Regions from separate parts of the Homo sapiens genome. Here region 2 is reported to be linked to region 1. Evidence: microRNA targets listed by miRTarBase, many of them from high-throughput screens and not tested one by one. Region 1 holds a microRNA gene; the other region holds the end of a gene's coding sequence.

The links. The annotated mature microRNA hsa-miR-4639-5p reads UUGCUAAGUAGGCUGAGAUUGA and lies in region 1 at 1,735-1,756, opposite strand. An mRNA with a match to its seed (bases 2 to 7 or 8) in the 3' UTR can be bound and repressed. Matches are read on the target gene's strand: a 7mer-m8 pairs with bases 2 to 8, a 7mer-A1 pairs with bases 2 to 7 and ends in A, and an 8mer does both.
Region 2: the mRNA of PSAT1 is a reported target of hsa-miR-4639-5p. Seed matches in the 3' UTR shown: 7mer-A1 at 2,306-2,312 and 7mer-A1 at 2,170-2,176.

What each region holds. Positions count from the first base shown.
Region 1 is chr6:16,139,895-16,143,311 of GRCh38, reverse strand. MIR4639 (microRNA 4639) reads right to left here and starts at 1,756; the gene lies at 1,688-1,756. It overlaps MYLIP (myosin regulatory light chain interacting protein), which reads right to left. Exons shown (of 7, transcript NM_013262.4): 3 at 1,502-1,687; 4 at 95-292.
Region 2 is chr9:78,328,532-78,331,948 of GRCh38, reverse strand. It overlaps PSAT1 (phosphoserine aminotransferase 1), which reads right to left. Exons shown (of 9, transcript NM_058179.4): 9 at 1,856-2,968. The coding sequence ends at 2,863. Among named protein-coding and RNA genes, the nearest start is that of PSAT1, 33 kb to the right of the region's middle.

The DNA of each region.
Region 1 (3,417 bases):
GACTGTCGAGTAAATCCCTTCCTATTTTCTATTACATTGACAGCTACAGATGTATACACATGCTTAGGTCAAAAAAAGTTAAGTCTTGGCTTACCTATTAATTGGGCTAAAGTCATCTTTACAAATTGAGATTCCTTCAGGTCCAACCCCAATGAGCAGTTTCTGCCCTTCGCTATCCCGCACAGAATGCCATTCTATGCCATAGTTTTCCATTGCCGACACAATCTGCAAAACTTGGTATTCAGCTGAAGCCTGGCTGGTCCCCTCCAACTCCTTATGTTTTGCAACAATGCTGGAGGACACCAAGAGGACAGAGAATTAAGTATACAGATATTAGCTTTAGAGATAAACCTATGTAGTCTTCACGAGTGAAATATACTAACACTGATGAATCACAACAACTTAAAACTTATGTATTACTGATGTTTCATGTATTTAGCGAACTTACTATAAAAAACGTCTAAGACACTGGGATCTCAACTATTAAATACTTGGTAAAAACACTTTGGGGATGCTGGATGGGTGATGAATTGGAAGAATTATGGAAAGTCTCTAAAAATATACATAAGTCAAATTTACATATTGGAAAGTCTCATGCATTTGTCCACATATAGTTTATAAGTATAAAGTTGACCCCTGAGGCCCCTGTGGCCAGGGAAGGAGGTAGGCCAACAAACCACAGGAGTCAACCTGGCATGGAGGCCACCCTCAGTCGAGCCTTCAGATGAGACAGAGTTCTACCTGCAGCTTGACTACAGTCTCATGAGCCAGAGGACCCAGCCAAGACATGGCCAGATTCCTGACCTACAGAACTGTGAGACAATTTTTGTTGTTTTATGTCACTAAGTTTTGGGGTAACTTGTTATGCAGGAATAGATAACTAAAATGCCTATGTTAGATCTCCTGGTTTAATTCTTGCTGGGATGAAGAAAACACCAATATACATAATAGATTTTTTATTTTAGGAGATTTGTACTTAAAGGCACAGATTTAAAAAATTCCCATTTTATATAGCATTTCATATTGTGTTTACATATTTTTCAAATAAAAGGCTAACAAATTTTTTGAAAATATTTGGTTAAATTGGGCAATGGCCCAGTCTTAACTTCACAAATTATGTGTATGTACCACAGATTCATCTTCTTTTGGAAATGCTTATACATTTGATAGCTCTATGAATATATGCAGTAGCCCTGATGCTGCCATGTTCATGCTCTGGTGTCTCTGGTCTTGCTGCTCCCTCTGTCCTGATGGCCATTCTTTCTGTCCCCTTGCTTGGATACCCTTTGGTCTGTATCACATGCAAATCCTCTATTCCTCTGGTACAGTATTTGACATAACATGTATATTATGTATGACTTCTTAAGTGCCTCGAACATCAGAGAGCTCAAAAATGTACATAAAACTGCATATTATGTGTGATTAGTTTACCTTCCAACCTTAGTTTCATCCTGTTTAAGCCTATTCTAGTTGTAAACAATACTATATTCAACAGCCTCACCTGTTCAAGGTGGCAGAGGAGAGCTCCTTGGCACAGAGCTCCTCATAGTTATACTTGGCAGTGTTCTGGTTGTAGTCTCCAAACTTGGTCTGGGCCAGGAGGGCACTGAGTTCCACTGCCTGCTCTGGGGAACACAAGAGGTGGCCTGCCAAGAGGGCCTCCTTGATGTGCAAGAAAAAGATATGCCTGCAAAGCAAGGTGAGAGTGAGGTTATGCTTGGGGATAACCTGACATCAATCTCAGCCTACTTAGCAATTTCACAGTCACTTTTAAGGAAAGCAATTTTAAAAGTCACACTGAAAATGCTTAACATTAAAGAACTTCAAAAAAAAATCATCAGTATTAAGGCAAAATCAAAATAAGAACTGCGTTTCTCTGGAATAAAAGTTGTGACCCAAACAAGATAAACTTATTTAACACAAGTTCGGTAACATTAAGGTTACAAAACATAAAATAATTACACATAAGTTTCTGCATTATAGTGTTTTAAAAGAAATTATTTTAATCAGAAAAATTGTATCTTGACATGGATTCTGATAGAATCTTAAGGAACTCTATACATAAAGACAAAATTCTCACCTTTATTCAAATGATACCCCAATCTCTAGTCTCAGTGCCAGCTTCTGTCCTAAGAATCACATGAAAAATGTCCAATCTCCTATAGGCTTCACCACCTGGATGTTCTTCGGTACCTCAATTTTGGCTCATTCAAAACCAAACTCCATATATTCTTTCCCAAGCCCTTTTTCTCCGAATGGAGACCACGGACTGACTTTGGACTCTTTGTCCTATTTCACTTGACTTTCTTCTCTCTGAAAACTATTTAAATCCAGTTCTATCCTCCCATTTGTACCTCCTCAATACTACTTGCAGGAAGAATTTACACTATTCTCTGCGCTGCTCTCCTCCTCCAGACTCCATGCAGGCAGCCTACCTTCCATGCTGCTTGTTTCTAGTATAAACTTGTCATTTCTCTGCTCAAAATCCTTCAAAGGATCTGTACGGCTTGCCAAGGGAGCACGTTGTTAACGTGGAGCTGAGGAGTCTCCGCCATCTGGCCCCAGCTTTCCAGCCACGTCTCCTGTCATTCCCTGCAGCTGCTATGCCCCAGGATAGGGAACGATTCCTCTCCCTGGGAAATCTAGGAAGCATGTTCATGCTCTGGTGTCTCTGGTCTTGCTGCTCCCTCTGTCCTGAGGGCCATTCTTTCTGTCGCCTTGCTTGGATACCCTTTGGTCTGTATCACATGCAAATCCTCTATTCCTCTGGTACAGTATTTGACATAACATGTATATTATGTATGACTTCTTAAGTGCCTCGAACATCAGAGAGCTCCAAAAATGTACATAAAACTGCATATTATGTGTGATTAGTTTACCTTCCAACCTTAGTTTCATCCTGTTTAAGCCCATCCTAGTTGTATACAATACTATATTCTACATTTACTAAAAGGTTATGTCACACTTAAAAACTCCTGTAAAATTCAGATACTGGTCACACTGCCCAAAACTCTGAAGAGCACCTAAACTGCTGTAGACAGATTGGCCTCAGTTATAACAAGTGTCCCTGGCAAATGTGAAGTTTTAACCTTCCTTCGATGACTTGTCATAACCTCTCAAACAAGGCTAATTGCCACATTATTCGTCCCATTAACAAATGAATTGTAACTTTGGCCAGGTGCGATGTCCTCAGCACTGTTTCTGTTTAATAATATATCTGTGTCTGACATTCCAGGTAGAGGAACATGAGCAAGGTAAGAATCGACTAAGGAGGAGGCAGTGAGGCTACAAATCTAAGGAGGTGCTATACTGAGAGTCTACAATGTCTGGCTGACAAGAGCCATTAATCTTATTTTCACTAAGAAGTATTTAAATTCAATGTTTTGTGCATTCTATAATGATAAAGAAATATTTAAA
Region 2 (3,417 bases), not on the chromosome of region 1:
TATGGTACTCAGAAAGACCAACGTGACCTACATTAAGATTTTTCATTCAGCCAGACGCAGTGGCTCTTGCCTGCAATCCCAGCACTTTGGGAGGCCAAGACAAAAGGATCACTTGCAGCCAGGAATTCAAGACTAGTCTGGGCAACATAGCGAGACCCTGTCTCTACAAAAAAATTTAAAAAGTTAGCCAGGCACAGTAACATACACCTGTAGTCCTAGCTACTGGGGAGGCTGAGGCAGGAGGATAACTTCAGCCTAGGAGGTCGAAGCTGCAGTGAGCTAGTATCACGCCACTGTACTCCAGTCTGGGTGACAAAGCGAGACCCTGTGTCTAAAAAGAACAGACTTCACTGGGCACCTCGAAGGGCAAGGCAGGACACTAGGTGCTTGAGGTAGAGAACCATCGTTCTTTCCATGCTGCTGTATGGGGAAGGCACATATGCAGCCACCTTGGCATAGTAAAGAACAAAACAGAGATGGTATAATGGGAGAAAAGGATCCCCCTGGTGAAAACAAAGGAAAAGAACATTGTCCCAATGGAAAGGACACAAATGAGTTTAGGAAGAGGTTGGCGGGTGTCATCTGGTCTTCCTGAGTGGGCACAGAAACTCCAGGCTTATGTCATAGTGTGGGCAAATGCATGCCACTTTCCAAGAATCACAAATGCAGGAGAGGTGCAAGAGGCCATGTCCCATGCTACAAAGTCCTGACTGCCAGGCTGGGAGTACTGGACTTTGTATGCATCAACAAAGAGCACAAGGGGAAGTCATAGTTCAACTGGCTGTGGTGGGAGGGGAATATGGGGGCAGAGAAGAGACTGCTGAATAATCCACTGAGGGCTGACATAGCAGAGCTGACATGGCAATGGAATGAAAATTAGCAGATATTTGAGAAGCACAGGTCTGATACAGATGACAGGGATGTGCAACCACATATGAAAGGGTGAGGAAGGAGGGGAGGCTGACTCTGAGCATGACTTTTATGTGTGAACACTTAGTTGGAATCCATGGACTGCCTGGCTTTTGCTACTTAAAACTTCATTGTGGTTATTATTCACATCCTGCATCGAGCCCTTGTTTTAAACTTTTAAACATCCTTAAGGTAAGTGGTGGGGGAGTTATTTCAACCCTCCTGTTACAGATGACAGAACCAAGCCTTGGAGCCTGTGACCTGAACAGGGGAGCCAACTAACCAGTGCAGAGATGGGACAAGACACTGGTGGAGTCCTCATTATGCAATCAAATAAACCAGGAAGATAGCTCAAAACAGTCCTAGTGGCATGTTTCTGGGGCAAATGGGACAAAGCTCATAGAACTTTACACCTTCAGAGCTGGGCACGGTGGCTCACGCCTGTAATCCCAGCACTTTGGGAGGCTGAGGTGGGCGGATCACCTAAGGTCGGGAGTTCGAGACCAGCCTGACCAACATGGTGAAACCCCGTCTCTACTAAAAATACAAAAATTAGCCATGCATGGTGGCTGGCACCTGTAGTCCCAGCTACACGGGAGGCTGAGGCAGGAGAATTGCTTGAACCTGGGAGGGGAGGTTTCAGTGAGTCGAGATTGCGCCACCACACTCTCCAGCCTGGGCGACAAAGCGAGCCTCCATCTAAAAAAAAAGAACTTTACACCTTCAGCTGCAATGGAAGGTGGTTTGCTGATAATGCCCATTCCAAAAGCAAATGGAAAGCTCCCACACCGTGTTGAATTTTTTTAAATGGATGCACAAGAATTAAGTCTTAGATCTTTGGTTGAACTAAATTACCCTTAGCAGGTGCTATTTTTAGACCTCAAGCTTTCCCATCATAAAGAACAATTTGTCTAAAAAGCAGGTAGAGAAATTCATTGACAAGGGCTTAGATGTTTTAGGACTTTAATGTTCTTTACATATTCAACATAAAATACTGACAATAGATAAACAATAGGGGAAAGACTTTTCAGCAAAGTATCACTCTCGTAGTCATACATTACAAAGAAAACAGTAGAGAACAAAGGATAGGGTAATTTAACAGAAATGTTTAGTTTAATGGCATAATTGAAAAACAACCAACCAATCAACTTTCTCTTCTACCTATGGAAAGAATGGTAAAAATGAATCAAGAACTTCTAGGTCTTTTTCATAAAACAGCTTAAAAAGAGGAAGGCGAAGACTGGGGAGGGGGTACAACTCTTGCTAATGGAATGCTATAATGCACAAGGTCAAGGATTTAATAAATTCTAAAAGTGTCTACATATATCAGTGATAACTGTATTATTAGAAATATAAATGTATAGAAATATAAAGTATATGGTATTAAAAACAGACCTTGCTAATATAAACATATATAAAGTATGTCACTTCTCCTGTAATAACAGCATAAAGATCGATCTACAGTTTGCCCTTCGCCTGGCACTCTTAAACCACTCCTCCAATGGTCAATGTTGACCTTGAATCAACAGCCGCTGAACCCAGGAGACCCCACAGATGTGTAGATTCAGCACCTAGAGGGCCCCCCTACCCTCTGTGCTGTGTGTTCCCATGACTCCAGAAATAATTAATCGCAACTTGCATTATTAAGTCCACAGGCAAGTTTGAAATCTAACTAGAAAAAGTAGCAGCAAAGGCAAAATACGCGGGAATTTGTTAGAAAAGCAACAAGATTTCTTAAAATGCTTCCAGTTCAAGTCAGAATTAAGGTGACATTAGGTCCCACCAGCTTTACAGAGTTGTGGATGTTTTGCTGTTGTTCTTTCAAAAAAGAAGAATCTGCAATAAACATGTTCATTTGAGAAAAATACTGTGTTAACTTTTTGTAGCCATCCCCAAGTTACTTTAAACTTTGTATGTTGTTCAAGAACAGAGTATATCCTGGTTAGGATGTGTTCATAGCTGATGCATCTCCAAAAATTTTTTCATGAAGGCGGCCAGCTTCTGAACGTCTTCAATTGTGACAGCATTATACAGAGAGGCCCGGATGCCTCCCACAGACCTAGAATGACCAAAGATCCAGGCATTGAGAACAAAAACGTCTAATTTCGCATCAAAACACCTTTTTCTAGCCACTGGCTCCTGAGAGTTGCAGCACCTGAGACCATCATTTCCGGTCTCCTACCTAAAAACTCCCGACACCTGGCACAGAGCTTCACACGTCTCAGTCATCAGAAAATTCTCCCTTAAGCTGTGAAGGTTCACCATGCTCACATTTAGAGTCATTCGAACTATTCACTCTTGGCAAAGAAAGCAAGCAAGATGTGGGGAAGAAAAGGTAAGTTGGAAGAAGATAGCGATTCTGTTCAACATTCATGAGCCTGTCGTGACAGTGCCAGCAAGATCGGGGCTGGGCTATTCTCATGTGAGGACATTCCCTGCTGCTATTCTCATGTGAGGACATTTATTTTTCATAGAGCATGCAAGACTAGCTACTAATTTGATGTTCAG